3 separate regions of the Homo sapiens genome follow, and regions 1 and 2 are each linked to region 3. Evidence: fine-mapped expression QTL. A gene starts in region 3. Each other region holds a variant in brackets. All regions are shown on one strand. Distances are between the middles of the regions.

What was found.
Region 1: its variant is fine-mapped to the expression of STOX2 in monocytes after R848 (Quach 2016, PIP 0.95).
Region 2: its variant is fine-mapped to the expression of STOX2 in lung (TOPMed, PIP above 0.99).

Annotation. Positions count from the first base shown.
Region 1 is chr4:183,985,191-183,993,190 of GRCh38, forward strand. All of the region lies in intron 1 of STOX2 (storkhead box 2), which reads left to right. Among named protein-coding and RNA genes, the nearest start is that of STOX2, 84 kb to the left of the region's middle. RefSeq lists an enhancer at 2,747-3,533. The variant C/A (reference allele first, on the strand shown) is at 3,926.
Region 2 is chr4:184,101,181-184,109,455 of GRCh38, forward strand. The region is part of intron 6 of ENPP6 (ectonucleotide pyrophosphatase/phosphodiesterase 6); the gene reads right to left. Among named protein-coding and RNA genes, the nearest start is that of ENPP6, 110 kb to the right of the region's middle. RefSeq lists a silencer at 1,316-1,610. The variant G/A (reference allele first, on the strand shown) is at 3,883.
Region 3 is chr4:183,901,099-183,909,371 of GRCh38, forward strand. STOX2 (storkhead box 2) reads left to right here and starts at 4,209. Exons shown (of 4, transcript NM_020225.3): 1 at 4,209-5,858. The coding sequence starts at 5,693. RefSeq lists enhancers at 3,752-4,461, 4,462-5,169.

The DNA.
Region 1 (8,000 bases), 84 kb after region 3:
TGTGTTCAATCTAAATTTAAAAATTGACATATAGGTTTTGACATTTTTTTGTTTACAGTGGCTTTTTTATTTTAATTATCAAGAGGTAACACGTGTTGTTGAAAGAACAGACTTTCAACAGCAATGGTTGTTGAAGATGATTCATGTAGGAAGTCTGTAGAACAGCATACATAAACGTGTAAAAGGTAAAATTGACTTTCAGTGGCTGAAAGAACAGACTCGAGAGCCAGCTGCCTTGGGTTGAAATCCCATCTCTGCCGTTCACCAGCTCTGTGAGCTTCAGGAAGAGAGTTCCCCTCTTTAAGTGGGGCTCACACCAGTACTTAACTTTCAGAGTCCTTGTGAAGATGATGTGAGTTTCTAAGTACAGACATACTAGGCCCATATATAGATGAAAACATGCATGCTTGGATATTAGAAATTATGACTACATTTTTATTTGTACATTCTCATCCCTTCGAGTATTTGGATTTTTTTTCTTTCTCCACATATTTAACCTTTCATAGATCATAGAAGAAACTTGTGTCTTTAACTGTCAGGAGGTGGTACAGTGACCCAGGGCTTCCCAGAAGGCTCTTACACTGCCAGGACTACAGATATGTCTGTTTAGATATGAATTTGTAATACATTTGTTATATGCTTCCATCATTGCATTCTTAAGGTGCGTGTGCTTATTAGGCACCCTGTCTGACCTTACAGTGATCAGACCACGCCCGACAGGAATGGGCTGGATTACATGGGTTTGGGTGGATTTATATCCAACAACACAGCCAGACTTAAAGAGGTTTGATGAAAGGCGAGTGGCTTTGTTTGGAGGCGCTGGTGCTGGGCCCTAGGCTCAGTCTGTGGCATGCATGAGAAGCTAGTGGCTTATCAACGAGGAGAGAAAATCATACCCTAGAAGGGAAAATCAAGACCGTATTTGGTTAAGTATGTGGAGAAAGAAAAAAAAAACAAATACTTGAAGAAAAGGGATGAGAATGTATAAATAAAAATGTAGTCATAATTTCTAATATCCAAACATGTATGTTTTCATCTGTATATGGCCTATTAGGTCCTTATATGCTTCTGATCAAGCATACAAGGTAAAATTGATGAGGCTGTTAAAAAGTGCATCAGTAGCAGTTGGTGTGGAACACATTCTCAAGGGGGTCACAGGGTGACAGATAGTCCAGGACAGGGAGGAGACAGTGCCACGGGGAGGACTCAGCAGGAGGATGCCACGTCGTCAGAGGGAAATGGATACGCCAGACCAGAGCAAAGGGGGGACCCCAGGAGGGCAGAGGATGTGAAAAGCGTTAGGTGGTTGAGGGCATGGAAGACGTTTTATTTAATAACATTCAAAGCAAGCATCTCAATGGATCAGTAGATGAATATATAGTCTGCATGCCTGCTGAGTGTCCCAGACTCTAGGCAGCTAGAGAAGAGCTGATCTGGGCACAGGGACCTGGTTAGTGTTTGTAGCTATCGGATGGGTGATGGCGCAGAAGCGGGTTATACGTTTTGTAGCCTCCCGAGGACAGAATGGATGTCACTGTGCAGGGGTGACAAGAGACGCTGATTTGAACTCAACTCACAGGGGGGCCTTTGCCAGAGCCTGAGCTCTGTTGGGGGAGGTTCTGGAGGACAGGCTGAATCACCGGAGTCAGGAGAGGATAGGACGCTTTCAGGATTTTAGCCGGGAGACCCACGTGGGGACCCCTGTAACTCTGAGTTTCGGGGGCGCCTTATGAAGAGCTTCAGTGCATTTCCCATCTTTGCTGGCACCCCACATTTTGTGCCCCTGGTAGCTGAGCTGCTGGGTTCATGAGGATGTGGGAGAATTTGCTGCAGAATCGTCTGCCACCCACCTCTATGGGTTTCTGAGAATGAGATAATTTTTCGGTTATCCGGATCCTGAGCGGAGGCAGCGAGCGGTGCCTGTTTTGGCGTTATTGGATTTGGGAGAGTTCGGCAGTACCACTGCCGTGAGATTCGTTTCCTTGGCCTCTCTGACTCCATTTTTCTCGGGTTTTATGTGGCTGCTCTACTCCTTCCATTGTGTTCTCTCTCTCAACTGCCGCCCCCGTCTTCCTCCTGAGATGTTTACGTGTTGCTTCTTGCACTCTAAATAAAGACTACATGTTTTCTCTGCTGGCATAAATTCCTCTGTGTGTGTGTGTGTGTCGGTGTGTAAATGCATGTCCGCAGGTGTACACGTGAGTGATTCAGCCTGGGGTTCACAATGAGCGTGGCACCCGTAGTGCAATGAAAAGGACATTTTTATGCAGATACGTGATTCATTTTCACCTTGCTGATCTTAGCCGTAGACATTTTTAAGAAACAGGGGAGGAACCAGCCACCCCCCAAATCCCATGAATCCCACTTCTCGGTGCGATTGGAGTTGTGTTGTAAGCGCAGGAGAGGCTCCTGCTGAGAGCGAGCTCCTGACATAGTGACCTCATTCCCCACGCCGCCCTCCTCGCAGCGGCAGAAGCCGCACTGGCTGGTGCTGGGTGAGCTCCACCGCTGCCCGGGCTGCGAGCCTGACGGCTGTGTGTCGGGAATGACGAGACCCAGGCTTGCAAAGACTTGCACGGCAACTGGAATTTATGACAAATAGCTCACTGCAGCTAAACTTTGATACAGTGTACAGTAGAACCGCCTGTTACACACAGGAGGGAGACGCGTCCTTCGTCACCATGCAAAGCCAGCCTTAACACAACATAGGAAAATGTGGCAGGTCTCTAATTACGGACTGGTGAGTATATGACGCCAGATCAATTTTAATGTGTGTGTTCTCTCTTCAAGCATCTGGAGGTATGTGCCCTTTTTACCTTTTTCATGATTAAAAAAATATGAGTTGGTGCTAATGCATGGGAGGGGACCTGGGCCCCTTGGAGAGGAGAGTGTGCCCCTCGCCACCCCGCGCCTGGGGTACATTCTGACCTCGCGTCTCCGCACTGCACAGACAAAGGAGCCTGCACAGACAAACAGAGGCTGTAGCTTTTCTTGGAGCGATGACTCATTTCAGTTCACAAAGGATTCTGGGCAGGGCAGTGAGAAGTCAGGTTGGCTGATCCGTCCCTGTGACTTCACTTTGCAGAGAACAAGCAGAAGAGGAGTGACACTGCAGATTCCGAGGCACTGCAGTGGGATGTTGGCTCAGCAAGTGGCTGTGATGTACGGGATAGGCATGGAACAGGATTCCAGCTGTTCCATGCAAATAGGATAAAAGAATGGTAAAGAGGATTCCTTTTTTTTTCCCTCCTCAAAACGTTACCAGCAAAGTACATTCACAGAGCCTTTTTAAGGTGCCTTTTGCCAGCTTTTGAACTGAACTTGTACCAGTATCTCAAGCCCTGAATTGTAAGAAGAGCTGAGAGTTCTGGAACTCATTTTTAAAAAGTAGATCTACGAAGGTAAAGTACCAGATTCCTCTTGTGTTCCACGGGCCCTCAGTAGCCAATCTGAAATGCTCATTTAGGATACTATGACTTGAAACTTTACTCTTTCTTCTTATTCCAGATTCTAGGACGTCCGTTTCTGTTACTGGCTCCTTCTTGTGCTTGGATGCAGCTCCCTAGCATGCACCAGGCTTTAGCGTCAGTGCTACCTGGGGGATGGAGCCAGTCCAGAAAGGGCCAGGTAGGTTTCCCCTGCTTTTATTTCAACAGTTGTTGTGTGCAAAGGAATATGGTGAAATGTCAGCACCACCCGTGAAGAGGGTGCACGGTCCTCTGAGAAGTCTTGCTGTTCCGCTCCTCCCGCAGCCTCAATCTTAGGCAGTCCAGGTCCTCCCACTGTGGGCTGCCCACCACACACGACCTCACCAGCCCAGGTCATCCCAGAGCTGCTCACGGGGACCGAGAAGTCCACAGCAGCAGGATTTGCCAATAGGAAATAATCAGACTGCCCCAGATTTCCCTCAGCTGTATATCTATCT[C/A]GCTCGCTGCTCTGAGGGAGGCATTCAGTAAATAGTATTTGACATTTTTTCTGGTTTTTTTTTTTTTTTTTTTTTTTTGTTTGTTTGGTTTGGTTTGGTTTTTTGAGACAGAGTTTTGCTCTTGTTGCCCAGGCTGGAGTGCAATGGTGTGATCTCAGCTCACTGCAACCTCCGCTTCCCGGGTTCAAGCGATTCTTCTGCCTCAGCCTCTTGAGTAGCTGGGATTACAGGCACGTGCCACCACGCCTGGCTAATTTTGTATTTTTAGTAGGGACGGGGTTTCTCCACATTGGTTAGGCTGGTCTTGAACTTCTGACCTCTGTTGACCTGCCTGCCTTGGCCTCCCAAAGTGCTGGGATTACAGGCGTGAGCCACTGTGCCCGGCCTCGACATTTTTTCTTACCAATTAATATATAGTGCCCGAAATTTTGCATACTGTTTGGCCTGTTAACCTACATGCAATGCACTAAAATCCAAGAAAGCCTGATTTATGTGCCCAGGGACTGTTTCCAAGACTAACATCATATTGAGGCTGCTGTTAACTGCTAAGGAAGTAAGCATATTTCATCATAGTCTGCTTTAGGATTCAGATTATGACAGAGCTGTTTTCTTACAACATCCATGGGCTTTTCACACGAAAGCTTTTTAAAAAAACATGACAACGAAATGGTAAATTTTGGTCCTCAAAAGTACATTACATGCCTCATTTCCAAAGTGAGACTTGGCACATCTGAAAGCATGGCTTTACCCCCTCATCACATGGATGGTTTCAGCACTGTTACAGATATTTCTGAGAGTGTTGAATCCCGTATGTAATAGGTAAGAATTTTTAGAACATGTTTAAAGGCAGATGTTCAAGACCCCTTGAACATCTTCTTTCTCTTCGCAGTCACATCCATCTCATAGCTCACCCTGTCACAGAAGAAAAGAGAGCATGTTTCCTTTCTCCACTGTCAGAGGTCTCTTCTTTCTGCATAGCAGTTTGCATCTTCAGAGCAACGTTGAGGATGCTGAGTCAGGTTTAAAGGATGTTTGGTCAGAAAAAACACAAGCATGGTATGTTGCAAATACAGTTCCATCATGTCCTCACACCCATCAATTCTACCCATCCTTAAGGACCTATTCCAAATCTCTGTCCCCTGGAAAGTTCTCCCTAATCACCCCAACAGGAGGTCATTTCTAAATCCTTGAAACTCCCATTATAGAGTTAAGTTTCTATTCATTCATGTGTTTTCTTGCTATAGCTCTTCTAAGGGTGTTTTGAACAGCAATGTGTATATTTCATGATGCTTTATATTTTCACACATGTATATCTTATATTCCCACCTAAATTGTAATCTCATTGAAGGCAGAGATCAAGATTTATGCTTTTTTCTGCTGTCTACATCTCCTAGCAGTTCCCTACACATGGAACCCTTTCAATAAATAGTTGAATAGGAAGAGGGGCAGTTTAAAAAGCAGGATTTTTTTTTTTTTTTTTTTTTTTTTTTTTTTTTTTTTGGTCATAGAGAGTTAGAATGATCTGGTTTTGCTAATTTTAAGAATCTTCACAGGGTATATTCAGGCTAAGGTGGACCTCAGGAGTCATGCATGCCACTCTAGAAGTTGTGATGGTTCTTACCCTGAGACAGTGTCACAGCCAGGAAGCTGCCTTACCCTGCTTGTAAAGAACTGTTGCCGTAAAGGACAAATGAGCATGTGGACATTGATCACGGTTTACTTGAATTATATTGGACAAGCCATCCTTAAGTTATGAGGAGTATGCCGAATTCGGGAAGTTTAGGTGAAAGTCACTTTTTTGACTCCTACAGGACATTTTCCTTAGAAGAAAGAGCCAGAATGGTTACTAATAATTCGGATCATATCAGAAATTATTTAACTCCTGGTGTCACTGATTTTTAATACTAAGAGTACTTATTTAAGTCCTGAGTTTCCTTTCCCTTTCTTAGGTAATGGATTGGCCCAACCTAAGTTTTGAAATAGGTCAACATCCTTTGATATCCTTGTAATTCTCTATCCACACTATTTCCCATCTCCTAGTGCCTTTTTCTCTCCAAAGTCCCTAGTGTAATGCATGTTTGCACTCCCAGCCTGGTGATGCATCCCAAATGCTATGTGTTCTATATATCTGATTAAAGTAATCTTATTAAACTACTTCATACTAGTATAAGGAAGACCTCTGCACTCTTAGCCTTCCCAAAGATATTTTAGTTTTTTAAAAAGGCTTATTTTTAGGTACAAACAAATTTTCCATTGGTAGAAATTCAAACACTGTAAATGAGTAAATTGGATAAATCTAGATGGGCTTGAGGAAGAATTTTTTTTTTTTTTTGACGGAGTCTTTCCTTGTTTCCCAGGCTGGAGTGCAATGGCACGGTCTTGGCTCACTGCAACCTCCGCCTCCTGGGTTCAAGTGATTCTCCCGCCTCAGCCACCCGAGTAGCTGGGATTACAGGCATCTGCCACCACGCCTGGCTAATTTTTTGTGTTTTTCGTAGTGATGGGGTTTCTCCATGTTGGCCAGGCTGGTCTTGAACTCCTGACCTGATCCACCCACCTCGACCTCCCAAAGTGCTGGGATTACAAGCATGAGCCACCGCGCCCGGCCAGGGAAGATATTTTTAATACTAGCTACTATTTATTAAACATGTATTAGGTCTCAGGGACAGGGTAAGCACTCAACATCCATTATCTCATTTAATCCCCTCAGTGAGTCTACAAGGTAAACATCATTATGTATACTTCACAAAAGAAAAAATTGAAACTCAAAAAATTAAATAATTTGCCCCAAATCACACAACCAGTGAGGAGCAGAACTGGGCTCTGAACCTAAAGTTTTGACTACAAAGCCCATGGCTTTTAACACCATCTTGTAATGCTGAATTGAAGAGAGAAAAGTTACTTAATTGTACAGCGACTTAGACGTTTCCTCTGTGTATCTGATCTGATCCCCTATCCTTTCTTTCATGCCTCTGAATTCTGACATAGTCCTTTCATAATGACCTCCATGGCAGTTGGAAGGGGTAGAAGCGTGTTCGGTTTTAGGGGGGTTGGTTGGTAGCAGTCAATCGGTACAATTTTGTTGTAATTTGGGAACTGTCAACCTGTCCATATTTGTAGTTTATTTAATTAGGCCTTCCTGTCCTATTACAATTGTATTTTACAGAAATCAGTCCCACTACAGTTGTCATCCCTAAACTGATGAAGCAGAGAATACAAAGACTGAGAAATAGCTCTGGTGATTCCAACTTAAAAAGAGGGAAAGTGAATGTGTGACCTAGAGTTGTTAGATGATTTATTAAGCTGAAGTTGGGAAATATCATCAGTGGAAACTGGAGCATCTAATGTCTAGTGTTAGGCCAGGTTATGCTGCAGAATGAACATGAAGGAGAAGTACAGGGTGGCTTAAAATAGGAATTTATGTTCTTTCTTATGTGATGCACTTAAGGAAAAGGAAGACGTCATGTTCCTCAGGTGCTCTTGTTGGTCAGGTGCTTTACAGAATTTCAGGACATCTGGGAGATCTTACTAATTGTTATCATCTAGGACTGGTATTTCATCATAACTTTATCCTTGTTGGTAAGTGGCTTTACCTTCATTCTGGTTGAAGGACTGGAGCACAAGTGGCAGCTGGTGTTGGAAAACATCTTGTAAGGTAGCAGGGCCTTGCCTCTTCTTGTTTATGTACGTAGGACCTTTTGATTCTACAAGCATTTGAGGACCTGCCGTGTGAAAGCATTCGGCTAGGTTTTATTCCATGTGCCTAGCACGTACCACCCTGGACCTAGCTGATGGGTTATAGTGTGGAGCCTTAGCAAAGGCGTTAATTACGAAATTAACCTGATTGGTCCCAGGGCTCATATTCCATCCTACCTTTTCTGCTATGCATCTATTGCAAATAGCTAAATGGTCCAACAGAAGTGTTAGTTGTTCCTATCAGAGACGTCAGGAATCACCTCTGGCGGTGGGGAAGGTGGCTCTTGGCCAGGGCGCTCTCACCCACCCCTGCCCACGAGGATGGCCCCTTTCTGCCCGATGCTCTACCCTTTCTGCCTTATCTGTCTCTATTTATTCT
Region 2 (8,275 bases), 200 kb after region 3:
ATGTGCCTGTGTATGAGAGTGTGTGAGTGCATGAGTGTAAGCATGTGTGTGCGTGTGTATATGTGAGTGTGTGTTTATGTGTGTCTGTGTTGCACGTGTGTGTTAATGTTTATGTGTGTGAGCTTGTGTGTGTGTGTGTGTGTGTGTGTGTGTGTGTGTGTGTGTGTGTGTAGCACTGGGGTAGGGAGATGGGGAGGAGAAATCAGGATGAGGAGTCCACACAGGGAGTCCAAATAAAGAGGGTGGGGTCGCTCCAAGGGTCCTGCAGTGACAGAATCCTGGAACTCCAAGAGCGGAGGAGCCCTTGAATGACCTGGGTGGGAAAGATGGAAAGAAAGCTGCCATCAGAGAGAGACAGCTGGAAGAGCCAGGAGGTGAGAGGAACTGGGTTGTTTTGCTAGCGAGGTTTTGCCAACCAAACAGGGTGACCAACTCTCCTGGTTTGCAGCTGAGAGGGTTTCAGGGATGCAAGGCTTTCAGTTTGAAAACCAGGACAGTCCCAGGCAAACCAGGACAAGTTGGCCATTGTACAGTCAGCACTATATTAGGAATTTAGGTAACATCTTCACCCAGGGTGATATGTTCAGCACTTCCCAGTGCCTTCCAGGACCCCTCCTCTAGACAGGGGTAGACAGCAATGCCAGGACCCTCCTTGATGAGCCCCTCAACCAGTTAATCATTTCTAACAGGAAGGAACCAGAAACAAGTCGCCCCACACCAGGACGCGCGGTGAGAAGCCGCTGCGAGGGTGCCTTCAGGCTTGCGCGCTTTCCTGCCGGTGCCTGCATTCTCTCTGGGCGCCTGCACTCCATCGCCAGCTCCCCATGATAATGCCTGTTATATGCTTGCATTGATTTGGGAAGCCAAGGAATAATTATGAGATAAGAGTTATAATTTCTAGACCAGGCCTTTGTCTCAATCATCCTTAGCATTAAAATGAAAAGAAAATGCAACATTTGCGCTTTACCTCCGAATCAGAAACCCAGTAAATACAGTTTGTTCGACACTTGCCAGGGCCCATCCGTTTGCATTCAGCATTGTAGGATTCCTTTGAGTGCTGAGCTGAGCTGTGCTGTCTGGGGAGCACACTCAGAAATGCGAGGCTGCGCTGGGAGTGAAGGTGCAGGCAGAGGGAGGGGTGGAAGGACAGGACGAGGCGAGGAGCACTGAGTGGTCCATGTTTATTATTTGCCGCTTCACATGGGCAAGGTGTGGCTTTGGCAAACTCTAGGGGCATTTACTTGTCTTTTCATGATGCATTTTTGGAATACATGATCATATATATTTCTTGCCCATTCCTTCCTATTTCTCTCCACCATATACAGGAGAATGGTTGCTAAGCTGGGGAGAATAACGGAGGAGGCTGGTGGCCAACAGCTGCCCAACATCCGGCCTCCAGCTGTGTCCTGCATCCCTAAATGTCTCCTCCCGAGGTGGCTGGAGGGTTGAAATCTGTCTTCTCTGCCATCCCTCCCCGAGCAGAGGCGCTGTTGCAGGGCCTTGCCTGGTGCCTCCTGCTCTGCCTGGTGCTGCCCCTCTGGCCTTCCCACAGAGGCCACAGTGTCGCTCCCTGCTGGAAACCAGCGTGCTCACCGTCCACACCGGTGCATCCCATGCTGGCTGCTCAAGGACCACCCTGAGCTCAGCCTGGACCTGGCTCCGGGATATTTGCATTCAGCAGGTCAGGAGGAGTTGAGGAATCTCTTCTTAATGTCCCCCAGGTGGTCGGGATGTGCAGTCAGCCATGAGAACCCCTAGAAGCTGCTCACCTGGCATCTGCCATGGGCCATGTGAAAGGATGATTGTCCTTTTCTGAGAAGTGCCTGAGATCAGGGACTGTGCCTCATGTCCCTTTGTGTGGCACTGGGCAAGCAACACGGGCCTCCCTCTTAGAAAGTTCAAAGGGCTTCAAGGGACTGCAGAATGAGGCACAGGATCAGCTGGTACAGGGCTGCTTTCCAACAGGCGGGAGCCAGGGTGGCCCTCCAGCTGCTCCAACAGGTGCTTCATTCTCAAAGGCCGGCGCCCATGGGATGCTGGTTGTTACACATTTTGACTATTGTGTCTCCTTTCAACTACTGAAAGTATAATTCTCATGGGGTGTGGGGTCAGGGACCCAAGTTCTTCCCTTTCTCCCTTGAGGCATCACAACAGGTCTCCAGGGAACTGGGGAACACCGTTGAAATCTGGTCAGATTAAAATAAAAGGTGAAACCTATCTAAGGTGTATTAGAGGCCTAATAAAAATCTACTTTTTTCTTCTAGGACACGGTTATAACAGAAGCCTCCCACCTCCCTGAAAATACAATACACTTCTGACATCCTCCCAGTCTAAGAAAAGGCACCAACAATGTTCAAGTCATGGGTGGCTTCAGTGAAAACGCTGGTGAAATGATGACAGTTTGGCTGGCTTGGATGGTTTTGCTGCTAGTGTGAAGGTCAAGATATGGTTTCTATTATAAACCACGCTTTCTCATATTTTGTGGCATTGCTATTTTAAATTGTCCTGCAAAGAGGCTTCCAGCCAGCAGGACTCTTTGGAGCCCGTGGGAGTGGTGGTTATGAGCCTTGGAGATGTGTTTGCCACATGCCGCTCCAAAGGGATGTTCCTCTAACCATTTCCCTTTCTCTGTCTTTCTGAAACAGAATGTAATTGCTCAGGCCTCGGCCTGCTGGCCTGACCCCAGCGAGCCCCTGGCCACACACTGCTTGATCCTCGAAATGGAAAATGCAGGCAGCCAAGTCAGCAGGGATCTGGCGACGCAGACATTCTCGGAGTGGAGCAAAGCGCTGGAGAAAAGCACTTAGTGGATGGGGTTTCTTTCTTCTTTTCTTTTCTTTTCTTTTTTTGAATCACGTTGATTGCAGTGCGCCCAGGCTGAGGAGGGTATGCCTGTGCTCCCACACAGCTCCCACAGATGGCCCTGGTCACCATCAGAACGCATGCAGCTTCCCACCCCACATCTGACTTTCTGAAGCTCAGGCAGGCCTGGACAATACCACACTAGCTGTCACTAAAGCTCCGAAGCCACGTTTTCCAGATTGTCTTGATTTCCCCAGATATTTTGAGTCCAGGCCTCACAGCCATTCAACCACAGGCTTTAGAATTGAGCCTGGCATTTCATATCCTTTTCCAGTTTTCAAAATAAGTCTTTCCTCTGGAGAAAAATATTGGCCTCCTTTAGAAGCTTGGGCCTGAATTTGCTGCATTTCTCTCAAGTCAGGCAGGGGTCCAGACCATGTTCTACGATCTTTCACCTAGCTCTGGGGAAATCTTTCCCCATCCTACCTTTGTGAGCATGGTGGCATAAAATGGACACTGTCCAGGAGAGGCTGCAGGAATTAGCCCTTCAGGGCTGGGGAGAGCTGTGTCCTGCCCTTGGACTGTAGCTCTGGGTCAACTGAGGTCAGAAGAATTTGTACTTTCAACACCTCTTCCCTGTTGAAATTTCTTCTGGGGCTACTAATAATTAACCAAGCTTGAAAGCCTGACTTCGCTTTCTTCTCTGTTTACTTGGTGACTGGTTTACACACCAACCAAGTGAACAATCTGTCAATAAGTAGTCAGGAATCAACTGTCTCAATATTTAATAATTCATACCACCCACTAACATCTACTGAGACTCTACTGTGTACAAGTTCTATGATGGGAAACAAAGGTCAAGATGCCAAAGACCTGCCCTCAGGGAGCCTCCACTCCGGCAAGGCAGAGTCCAAAACAGACAAACAAATGTAGCATCAGGTCTTACAGAAATTCCAAGCTGGAGAACATTAGCAACTCTTGAGTGTTTCCTGGAAGAGATGGTGTTTGAGTTGGGCTTTGAAGGACAGGGAGGGATTGGCACAGAGAGGGCATTCCAGAGATTCTACTGATTATTTATTA[G/A]GCTGATTGAAGTTACTTGGGCGAGCACGGTTACCCCTCCCTGACCACTAAATTCCCAACACTTAAGTCTTGCACTGGAAGAATTGTTTTCACAACCAGAAAAATTTTGGTTCGGGTCTATGCAAATCATCCATGTTGGTGATAAGAAAGAAAGAAAGGGGTTGGGGTAAGGAAGAATAAAAGGAGATAAATTGGGCTTGGAACAACTGTAGAGGTTTTTGCAGTATGACACGAGCAAGAAAATTTAAAAGGATGATGGTAGAACTTCTGTTTCTGCAAGTGTGAAGGAGCCAAGATGTAGCTCTAGACCCCACAGAAGCCAGAAGGGTGAGTCTGTAACTGGGAAACACGATGTTAGAAACACATTGAACATTCTGCTGAAATGTTTAGAACATCTTAGAAGAACTGGATGGGACTGTGTGCTTCATGGCTAGACTTGAATTCAAGTCCTGGGTTAGTTGCTCAGAGATTTGTAACCATAGGCAAGATACCTAAAATGCTGAGCCGCCATTAACTCAGTAAATACAGTATCCACAATGCAGAGAGAGTGAATTGAGGAGGTACTTCATTCCAGATAGCCACTATTGTTATGGTTGTTATTGACCAAAATTTTTTTTAAAATCCCCATATTTTTATTATCTGCAAAATATAAAATAACTTGATGTGTATGTCATTGAAACTTTTGGGAGGGCCATAGGGAGCTCTTTCCAAAGTCTACGATGATCCAGGCAAGAAAAATTAAGATTGTTGTTCACAGCAACCAGTATTACTAATTAAAGGTGTATGAAATCACATTGACAGTCTGTTTAGTGGGTCAGTGTAAGGATTTTCGTGGAACTGCTCATGACCTCAGTTATTTAACTCTGTTCTTCCCATGAGCTATGAATTACATTACCCTGAAGATGATGGATCATGATCCTCCCCTGTAAAAATTCCCTGTGGTTTCCCACTGAACTTAAGATCAAAAATACCAAGTTGTTTTTTTTTTTTTTGAGATGGAATCTCTCTCTGTCTCCAGCTGGAGTGCAGTGGCGCAGTCTTGGCTCCCTGAAACTGCCACCTCCCAGGTTCAAGTGATTCTCCTGCCTCAGCCTCCCAAGTAGCTGGGATTACAGGCACATACCACCATGCCCGGTTAATTTTTGTATTTTTAGTAGAGACAGGGTTTCATCACGTTGGCCAGGCTGGTCTCGAAATCCTGACCTCAGGTGATCCGCCTGCCTCAGCCTCCCAAAGTGCTGATATTACAGGCATGAGCCACCATGTCCGGCCACAAAAATACCAAGTCTTAAAATAAAAAATACCAAGTCCTGGCCCAATGGTCCCTTGCTTACCTAAGCAGCCCCATCTTGTTGCCACGTCCCCTCTCCCAGCTCCCCACACTTGGCCACCTGGCCCATTCTTTCCATTCCTCTCACTCTCAAAGGTCTTTCCTGGCTCAGGTTCTTCAAGAAGCCCATTCCCTCAGCCTGGAGAGCACTTCCTCTTCCCGCCTGACCACTGAGCACTCCTCCTCTGGGTTTCAGCCTCAAGCTCCCTTCTCAGAGAGGGCCCCCCCAGCCCCTCATCTATATCGGTCTCCTGTTGCCCCCACCCCAGTACCCTCTTTCATGGCACTCTCTGTGTCCATGACAGCTCTTACCATGGCGACTTATTTGTGTGGCATGCGTGTTTATTTAGTGTCTAGTGCCTTCACTAGCAGGGAGGGCAGGAGTGGGGGCAAGGACTCCCAGTGGCTCCCCACTGTGGAATTAGAACTTCTCGTTGGCCGTCGCTGTAGTCGGCACTCAGCACATATCTGCTGGTTCGCTAGGTGCACGATTGCTGAGGCACACGGCCTTCACGGTCGGGGATGGAAGAGCGTGCTTGAGTCTGCTGCAGACTACCCACAGCCCTTCTCCACTTGGCATTTTGCTGTGTTGTGCCTGACTCTCCCACAGTTTAGCATCGCCGAGCCTGCCTCCTCAGTGTCCCTGGCCCACCGTGACATTGTGACAACCCAACCTGCCCCAGGCCCCTGGGGGAGGGAGTGGCAGGGTGACCCACTGAGAACCACGGTGGAGCCAACCTGGGCGGGACTTCCGTGCTCTGGGGAAGAGTGTGATCTTCATCCCCTGTGGGAAGATGCAGGGCAAAGTCTTTCCAGAAGACAGGGAACAGGTCTCAGGCAGGACTTCCATGAGGAAGGCCCATTTCCTATCCTTGAAGCAAAGAGCTTGGCTGGGGTGACGGGCTCAGGCTGGACCTGTGGAGGCAGCCTGTGCTTTACCTCTTTCTGTTTTATCCTATGGGAATAAGAACACTTCAGATTTCTCTCCTTTCAGGACAGGAGGCTGGAGAAAGGACTGACAGCGGTTGGAAATCCAGCTGGTTTATTAAAGAGTGCAGGGGCAGAGGCAAACTGGGGGCCCTTGCTTTGCTATGGCAGGGTCAGCAGTCCCGCTGGATGACTGTGTGTAATCCCAGCACTTTGGGAGGCTGAGGTGGGCAGATCACAAGGTCAGGAGTTCGAGACCAGCCTGGCCAATATGGTGAAACCCCGTCTCTACTAAAAATAGAAAAATTAGTCAGGGCTAGGTGTGGTGGCTCACGCCTGTAATCCCAGCACTTTGGGAGGCTGAGGTGGGCGGATCACGAGGTCAGGAGATCGAGAACATCCTGGTTAACACAGTGAAACCTCGTCTCTACTAAAAATACAAAAAATTAGCCGGGCGTGGTGGCGGGCGCCTGTTGTCCCAGCTACTCGGGAGGCTGAGGCAGGAGAATGGCGTGAACCCGGGAGGCGGAGCTTGCTGTGAGCCGAGATCCCGCCATTACCCTCTAGCCTGGGCAACAGAGCAAGACTCAGTCTCAATAAAAAAAAAAAAAAAAAATCTGTTTCTGTCTTTATCTTTTTCAGTGACGCCTCTCTAAGAAATCCTAAGAAAAAGATAAACTCAATTAAGTCTTCCTGTTAGTGCAGCCGCCTTAGAGTCTGCAAGACTTAAATTTATGGTAGAAAGTTGGTGTGTTTTGGGGAAGGGCATTTTTACCAAGGAAACCAAATCTTCCATGTTTCTGGGATGGCGGCTACAGGCAGAAAGGAGTGGGGGACAGGACTCTAGTGGCTGTCACCCAGCATCACCATGTCCTGACTCAGCTGTTTTCCTAATCATGGCTAAACCAGAAACCAGTCTCATCTGCCAGCCGAACTCAGACCCAGAGAGGCTGCTTTCGGGCCGAGAGTCTTGCCATGCCACAGATGTGAAGTCTAAGCCAGCCCTGAAACGTCATCGCATGCACTGTGGATGGGTGTATAGGTTTCAGGGCAAAACTTAACATTCTTTTACCATTTGGGGAGAAGTTTAGCGAATAGGAAAGTGAGAGATTAATAGCCTTGGCACAACGCAGAAACGAGGATATAGAATGGGGTTTTTAATTCTCTGCTGTCAAGAAAGGATAAAGAACAATCGAACGATGTCAAAGGAAGAAGTTTAAGCCAATAAAGAAAGAATGGGCACTTGTTTTGGGGATTTCTCAGAAAACAAATAAATAAAGCCCCAATGTTATATTAAAGTAGAATCAGAAATTATAGCTTTTACATATGGTGTCTTAATAATAAAAATTTGTAAATTCCAGGATAGAAGTAAAATGATTAAGATCTTTAGTCTAGGAAACTGCAGAGTCATTAAAAGATATCTCAGTGTCTCTCAGGACTCAGGGACGATTATGAGTTTCCAGAGAGACATTTGTGTTCATGGACATAGGTGCTGTAAGTTATGTTAATGGAACTGATTGTTCTCTTTGAATTGGCTTCTTGGAAGCTCAGAACCACATGTGTGTTCCATTTTGTTTGGCTGTATGTTATTTTCAGAACTAACAATAGCAGCGGGACGCAGTGGCTCACGCCTGTCATCCCAGCACTTTGGGAGGCCAAGGCGGGCAGATCACTTGAGGTCAGGAGTTCAAGACCATCCTGGCCAACATGGTGAAACCCCATCTCCACTAAAAATACAAAAATTAGCTGGGCAGGGTGGTGGGCACCTGTAATCTCAGCTACTTGGGAGGCTGAGGCGGGAGGATCTCTTGAACCTGGAAGGCAGAGGTTGCAGTGAGCTGAGATCGCACCACCGCACTCCAGCCTGGGTGACAGAGGGAGACTCCATCTCAAAAACAAAACAACAACAACAACAAAAAAAAACAAAACAAACAAACAAAAAGAACTAACAATATCCATGATGCAGAGTCATCAGGAGAATTCGAAACAGGAACTGGGATGCACTTAATTCAAGAGAGCTATTATTATGCAGTAGTTGTCACTGACTAAAATTTAAACAGACATTTTTCTTGATGTATTTATTATCTGCAAGGTGTAAAATAACTTTCTATGCATGTCATTGAAGCTTTGGGGGAG
Region 3 (8,273 bases):
TTCTCCTTTGTGTCATTATGATTTTGACTATTCTAAGTACTTTGTATAAGTGGAATTATGCATTATTTTTCTTTCTGTGACTGACTTCTTTCACTTAGCATTCTGTTTTCAAGGTTCATCCCTGTTGTAGCATTGGACAAGATTTCCTCTCTTTAGAATGCTGAATAGATTCCATTATATGTATATATTGCATTTTGCTTATCCACTCATCCCTCAATGGGTACTTGGGTTGCGCCCATGTTTTAACTATTGTGAATAATGTTGCTATGAACATGGGGGTGGTCCAGATATCTCTTCGAGTCCCTGCTTTCACTTCTTTTCGGGTATATCTAGAAGTGGAATTGCTGGATCATATGGTAACTCTATTTTTAAGTTTTTGAGGAGTTGCCATACTGTTTTCCACAGTAGCTGTACCATTTTGCTTGCCTACCAACAGTGCACAAAGGTTCCAGTTTCTCCACATAATTGCCAATGTTTGTTATTTTCTGGTTTTTGGGTATTTTTTTTTTTTTTTTGATAGTAGCCGTCCTAATGGGTGTGAGTTGGTATCTCATTGTAGTTTTGATTTGCATTTCTCTAATGATTACTGATACTGAGTATCTTTTCATGTGCTTACTGGCCATTTGGATATGTTCTTCGCAGAAATCTCTATTCAAGTCCTTTGTCCATTTTTGAATCTAGTTGTTTGTTTTTTTGTTGTTGAGATTTAGGAGTTCTCTGCATACTCTGGATATCAATCCCTTATCAGATATATGCTTTATAAATATTTTCTCCCATTCTGTGGATTGTCTTTTCTCTGTTGACAGTGTCTTCTGATGCACACATTTTAAAAATTTCATGAAGTCAGTTTTTCTGTTTTTTCTTTTGTGGCTTGTGTCTTTGATGTCATATACTTGGTACACTTGATTTTTAAAAAGTAGTTAATATATCTGACGAGGAAGGCTTCAACCCAAATTTTCCCCAGTACTCTATTGGGCCTTTAGTAGTCATCAAATATGTGCCAACCATTGCTAGCCATTGGGGATATAGCTCTGAACAAAACAGAACAATGAGCAACAATGAATAAGACAGAAAATATCCCTCATCCTTATGGAGTTTACATTCTTCTAACTCTAAATTCATTCAACTGTAGCAAAGCTGATAAACTAAAGTTTTAAATGAAGAGGATTTCAAGTCAAAATTTGTATACCTTTCAATTTAAGATTACAAGTCTAAAATCAATTATACATTTGAATTAGAGTCACAAAGCAAATCTGTGTAATTAGTGTCTCTAATCTGTCTGATATGAAAATACCAAATATACACATTTTAAAAGCCCGATTAAATAATACTAATGCTATAAAATCGATTTGCTTTATCATTCATTTAATTCTAACTTTCCTAATATTGAATACTGGCTTACAAAACCGAGCTTGCTTGATGGACAACTCATGACCCAGGTACATGATTGTCTGAGGTAGGTTTAGAGATCTGAAACTGGGCCCAGGGACATAGGGGTTGTATATGACCAGAGTGACTCTTTCCATCATAACACAGATGGACAGACTGAGTCTGATTTTAATAGTGGCTATAGTAACAGGGAACTCCATTTTTCTTCAGATTGGACTGGTTTCACAATACGCTGTTTGCTAGATTTAAGCCTTCCCTTCATAGCACTATTCAGCATTGTCCCCAGTTTGGATGGATAAATTACTACACCACCCATACCTACTTTGCCATCTGATCCGATTCAGCTAACTCAGCCTATGTACCACCTGATTATTCTACATCAGGCTAGTTGGCCACGAACACTGGATCATGTCACCCCTCTGCAAGGTCTGCATTTGGAGGTGGCTGAGTGGAGCTATAGCTCTTCTCCCCAAATGTCCATCAACTCACCTCCCGTCTTTCATATGAACAATTAATATTTTCTCAGTTTAATCAAGTGCGATTCAAACTTACTTCCAGAAAATTCTTAGTCAATCTCTCCCTTCGAACAGATTCCCTCTTCTTCTGTAAAGAAATTCTAAAAATATCATTGCTTCTTTGATCCAAACTCTTCAACGGCTCACACTGCACTTGGAATAGAATATAAAACCTTTACCATGGCCTGCAAGTTCCGGCATGATCTGGCTCTGCATCCTTCCATGACCTCATCACAAACCTCCCTCTTACTGTGCTCCAATTTCAGCCACAGTGGCCTTTTTCCACTTCCTCCAACAGAAAGTCAAGATCCCTTCTACCCCAGGGCCTTTGCACAGACTGTTCCCCCTTTCTGTAACACCATCTCCCCCACTCTTTGCTTGAGTGGCTCCTCATGCTGTAGGTCTCAGCTCAACTGTCATTTCTTAGAGAGATTATTGTTCTTCATAGAACTTAGCACAATTTCTGCATTTATTTGCCTACTGTTTCTCTTCCATACTAGACGGTTTGCTGCAGGGTCATGTGTGGTGTTCTGTTTGCCCAGCACCCATCCCAGGGCTTGCGTATTCTAGACAGTCAGCCATTGTTTGCTGAATGAATGACTATCACAGTTGCCACAGCAGTCACCATTAGCTTTAAGTCATAGCTATTATAATCATTCATATAACCACCTTTGGCTCTTGGGAGGTACTGAGTAATTGTTGAATTGAGATATCTAAATGTCAGTTCTCCTACATTCATTAATACAACTTGTTATTACCTTATGGTCCTTTACACCAGCGGCCCCCAACCTTTTTCACACTGGGGACCAGTTTCGTGGAAGACAGTTGTTCCTTGGACTGGGGTGGGGGTAGGGTTGGAGAGCAGAAGGTTTTGGGATGATTTGAGTGCATTACATTTACTGTGCACTTTATTTCTTTTATTATTACATTGTAATATATAATGAAATAAATATACACTCACCATAATGTGGAATCAGTGGGAGCCCTGAGCTTGTTTTCCTGCAACTAGAGAGTCCCATCTGGAGGTGATGGGAGACAGTGATAGATCATCAGGCATTAGATTCTCATAAGGAGCACGCAACCCAGATCCCTCCAAGCATGGTTCACAATAGGGTTCGTGCTCCTGTGAGAATCTAATGCAGCCACTGATCTGACAGGAGGCTGAACTCAGGAGGTAATGCCAGTAAGCAATGGAGAGCTGTTGTAAATACAGATGAAGCTTCACCACCCACCTCCTGCTGTGCTGCCTGGTTGCTAATGGGCCGAGGACTAGAAGCTGCACGGGGTCCGTAAATATCTGTGGGGTAGGTAAATATCCAAGCAGTCCATGGCCTGGGAATTGGGGATCCCTGCTTTATACAGCTAGCTTTCTATAACTTCTAAAGCTGTAATCTTTCTGTTCTTAGCAGTTCTCTTACAGGAAAGAAGACATTGAACTAAAAGTGCCTTCTATAACTTCTAAAGCTGTAATCTTTCTGTTCTTAGCAGTTCTCTTACAGGAAAGAAGACATTGAACTAGAAGTGCCTTTCCCAATTAAAAATAAAAACCACAGAACATTAGTGAATTGGTTGACAGTAATACATTTTGATTATGTAAATATAAATTCCATAGGCTACTTAGTGATTATTTATTTATTTACCCTGGGTATCCCAAGAGGTAGTACAGTGGCCACAGGTTATAGAGGGCGGTCTTGAGATCTGAATGAGGAGAGCTCTAATTCTAGATTTTATAATGCCTGTGGCTTAACGCCATCCTGCTCTGCCTGGTTCTTCAAGATAGTTGCTACCCCCCTCAAATAATTCAAGCCTTGGAATAGCACAGATTGTGTTAGAACTTCCTGAATCCTAACCAGCTAGAATCCACTGGCTTGTTTTTGCGATATCAGCCTGTTAGAAGCATATCCCTATAAAGATTTAATATCCCTGTCTCTGCATCTTGGCACCTGTGAATATGAAACAACAGCATAAATATGATTTTGAACGTTGCATTGTCACAGATGAAAAAATGCACCAACATGTCAAATGCAGCGCTGAAAAAGGAAATCGGGCTTATTTTTGTCGTTGTTTACTGTACCAAAGCATTTTTGAAAACCCAAATCGAGGAGATAACCGTTTTTGAATGAACGGCAGTGCAAAGCGTGGTCGGGGTTAGCAGCAACGTGGCTGGGCGCCTTTAACTCGGCGTGACCTCCGGGTCCCAGGCCCGCGTCCCGGGCCCAGCGCCCAGGCCCGGGCGGCGCATTGGCCCCTCCTCCCCTCGCGCGCCGCGCGCATTGTTGTCCTTTAGCGATTGGTTGTTGGACCAGAAACAGCTGTGCAGAGCCGTGCCATCTAAAGAGCTGTGGACCTGAATGCAGCGTAGCGGGCTGGCGGTGACTTACACCGGGACTCCAGAGGGAGAGAGGAAGCGCTGCAGGCCACTTGCATTGCGTCTTCCAGGCTGCGTGGACCCGGCGCCCCGGCGTGTGCGGTTGTGGGGGAGCTCGCCGTGGCCTCCCCTCCCTCTGGCTTTAGCTTCCTTTGGGGTTGGCGCAGGTGGGCCAGGCAGCGCACCGCAGATCTCCCCGTTCCCACGAAGGCTGGCTCGCTGTCTCTCTCCGAGCGGGAGGGACCATCCTAAAAATATGTAAATATCCAAGCGCTGGCTCCAGGCTGGGGCAGCTGCCAAGGTCCCCGCGCCGCCGCCGGGTGTTTTACATGAAAATGAGAAGCCTGATGGGAACCGCGTTCTAACTTAAGGCAGCCTGGTGATTAGCATGAGACTGGGCGGCTGTCCTGCTTCCTGCCCTTCAATAGCCGTTCCGCGCGCTCGCGCCGGAGCAGCGCTGCCGCCGCGCGGGGGTCGATCGCAGGCTCGGCGTCCTTGGCAGCCATGGCTCCGGCGCCGCCTCGGCCAGTAAGTAGGAGCATGCATGTGTAGGGGGCACATGCGTGTCGGCGCACCCACCCAGCCATCCACCCGCGCGCACGCACAGCGCCCGGAGCCTCGGCAAGGGGAAGATTGACGAGGCGCTGCAGTCGCGGGGACGACGCGGGCTCTTCCTGGATTCCGCAGGAGCCCGCCCGCCGCAGCTGCTGTCTGCAGAGCCTGCTCGGATCCTGTGCACACGCGCCCCCCGCTCGAGCCTCTGTGATGAAGACTGTCTCCCGGGGACTGCAGCGGAGGCAGAGCCAGCCAGCGCCGGGGACTGCGGGCCGTGCGGCTGATAGGCCCGCGGGGACACGACTCGGACACTGTCATCCCCACGCCTCGCGCTGAGCTGCCCGGCGCGGAGGGTCTGCCGCCGCCCCTCCGGCCTCCCGCACGCCCGATCCCGGGTCAGCCCCGGAGGCCTCGGCTGCCTCATTTGTTTGGGTCTTTTGTGCCGTGGCTCCCAGTTGGCCAAGCACTCCTGCGCTGAATCGGGCCATTGTCTGCGCTCCCATTGCCTTCACGCTGCAAGTCTCGGCGCCCCCACCCCGCCCGCCCCCTCCCCGCCTCCTCCCGGCCGGGGAGCCTCCTAACGTGCCTTTCCCCCCAGGAATCTGGAAGCTATAAGCCGGGCGGATTGCAAATGAAGTGTAATGCATTGTGGGACGTGTGTAAAATCGGAGCCTTCGCCGTGGGGGTGTGGGGGGGCGTGGGGAGGGCCGGACCCGCCGCTGGCGGTGTAGACGCCGACGAGGAGGGGCTGGGAAAATGTGCGCAGAGTCCGCCCGGGTCGTGCCCGCCGTAGACGGATGAAGGAGCGCGCTGCGCCCCGGCGCTGAGGCCCCGAGGATCGGGGCGGCAGGTCGCCCTCCCCACCATGAAGAAGACCCGGAGCACAACCTTGCGGCGAGCCTGGCCTAGCTCGGATTTCTCGGACCGGGCCTCGGACCGCATGAGGTCCCGCAGCGAGAAGGACTACCGCCTGCACAAGCGTTTCCCCGCGGCCTTCGCGCCCCAGGCTTCGCGGGGCTACATGACATCAGGTTGGTTGGTGACCGCGTTTCTGCCCCCGGGCCGGGGCCGCGGGACGTGCTCGGTACGCCGCGGCCCGGGTGCTTGGAGGAGAGGACGGGCAGTGATGGATGCGATAAGTTATGGGGAAAGCAGGAAAAAATTAGCTCCCATCCACCATTTTGTACCTCCCAAGATCCACAGCAGGCCCTCTCAATATGGGGTTGGAGAGCTATTAGTTAGGTAAAACGAGGGAGGGGGGACGAGCCGGGCGTTTTGGCTGCAGGGAGATAAATGACTGCAAGCCCCGGCGCTGCAGCCTCCTCGAGCTTTGTGGAGGATCCTGCGCCCAGGGTTGCCTGCAGTGCCAGGCTTGCTGGCTGCTGCATTGTGGCCGGTTATCTGAGTGGGTATTTCCAGCAGCCCCCTGTTCTCCAAAAGGAACAGGTTCCATGCGCAGCTCTGGATGGGCTGAGTCAGGGGAGAGTCCTGCAGACATCCCAGGCTGGTCTGATTTGCACGCAGAGAACTGTGTTGGAGCTTACTGAACGCGTTCTGTGGGGGTAATGGTGTGGATGCGGATTGAATGCTCACATGATTCTGTGTGGATTTAACATATGTTGCTTTGAATTAGGCTGTATGGAAAGAATGGAGGCTGTATCATGTGTTTGCATGTCAGACAGGAGGGACAAACAAAACGGTAAATGGAAAGGGAAGGCTTCAAAAAAGATTTCCGCTTAAAATGCAGTGCTGTGAAAAGCCTTCCTGAAGGAGCCAGTTCTTTTTTTGGAAATACAACGGAATGGCTTTGGTTTGATTTGGGAACCCAGGGATGAAATTCTTGAGGGAAATGCTGAAGGAGGAAAAGCCTGGAAACCTTCCGTTGCCTTCTCCTTACTTCTCCTTAACCACTTGGATGTAATGATGTGTAAGGCATCGGTTCTTATTTATTTTTCATTCAGAGAAAAATTTAGATTTTCTTCTAAGCACACTGTAATGGAAGAACCGAGATTTTATTTTAAACCACATACTGTACCAAATCACTCTGAGCCCTGTCTTAACTGGGAAGATCATTTTAAGCTTGTGGTTGGTACTTACAGTCTAGCTTTACTCTTTTTCTCCTAAAACAGCAAGTCCTTTTTAACTGGGGTCAGCATCTCATGCTTCAAAAATGCCTTGCGACCGCATTTCCACGAACATAAAGCCGAAATAAAAGAACCATCTTTTTTATTGCAAAGTCAGGCGACATAAGGATGTTGTACTATTTTGGCAATAAGGCTCCCTTGATTTTCCCTTTCATGAAAAGCCAAATTCGTAAAGAAAGTGACAACTACAGTTTATACTTCAGTCATTTAAGTCGCTGCTGTGGTTGCTACACTCTTCAGACTTGTGGCAGTAAATTTTGAAACACACCTAAATGCAAACCTAACCTCAAAACACATATGTACATAAACCCATTGCTGCACTAAGTGTTCAGATAATCCTGGGTTTCATGTACTTAGGGTTTGAATGTCTTCATTCCACACTTCACAGTTCCCCTTTCTTATGCCTCCTAAGGAACCGGTCCTGACACCAACTGTGAAGCTATAGGAGGGTTGGTGGCCATCATTTCATCGACAAACCTGCAACACTCTGTTTCATGATTCAGGCACATTTCCAGGCAGCCAGTTTTTTTTTTTTTTTTTTTTAATCTATCTTGGCATTACCTCATTATCACATTTGCATTCTTTGCAAAAGAACTTGTCTGCTATTGCAGGTGCTGCGAGGCGTTTTTGAGGGCTTGAGGAAGAAGCTTTTAATTGTACTTGATTCCCTTATTTTATTTCTTGATCTACAAATGGTAAGATGGTCCTATGGTGATAATGAAGGATAACCTGTTTCAGGTTGGCGGTTTTCTGTTCAGATTCAATGTTAGGTTACTGCTGAGAAACCTGAAGACCAAAAGATGGAAGAAAAGTGCTGTCATTCATTCAGCATTTTTATGGCGTGCCCCCAAAGAGCGAAGTGCCTTGCTGGATTCTCATGGGGTTATAGGGTTGGATATAATACGGTTCTTGCCCAGGGAGGGAGGCTTATCATTTATTCTTTATTTTAACTGTTAGCTAATACATGGAATAAGAAGCAGGTGTTGCTGCTATGGAAGGAAATGGTAAACATGATGACAAACACCTACAATGAAGATTGGGAGAGTAGGTGGAGTCTTTCTCATGTGCAACTCTTTTGGGGGTTGGGTTGGGAAGGATGTGTATCTTCATCTATTTCCTTTACAAATATGGCTCCTTTCAAAATGTGAGTATTGATAGAAATAGATGATATACTGAAACACTTGGAAATGATTTATAAGACATTCTCATCCTTTTAGGAAATGTAAAGGAGATCCACTTTTATCAAGTTAGTGACTTTGGATACAAACAGAGCCTTTGTCACATAAAATATTGAGTAGAAAA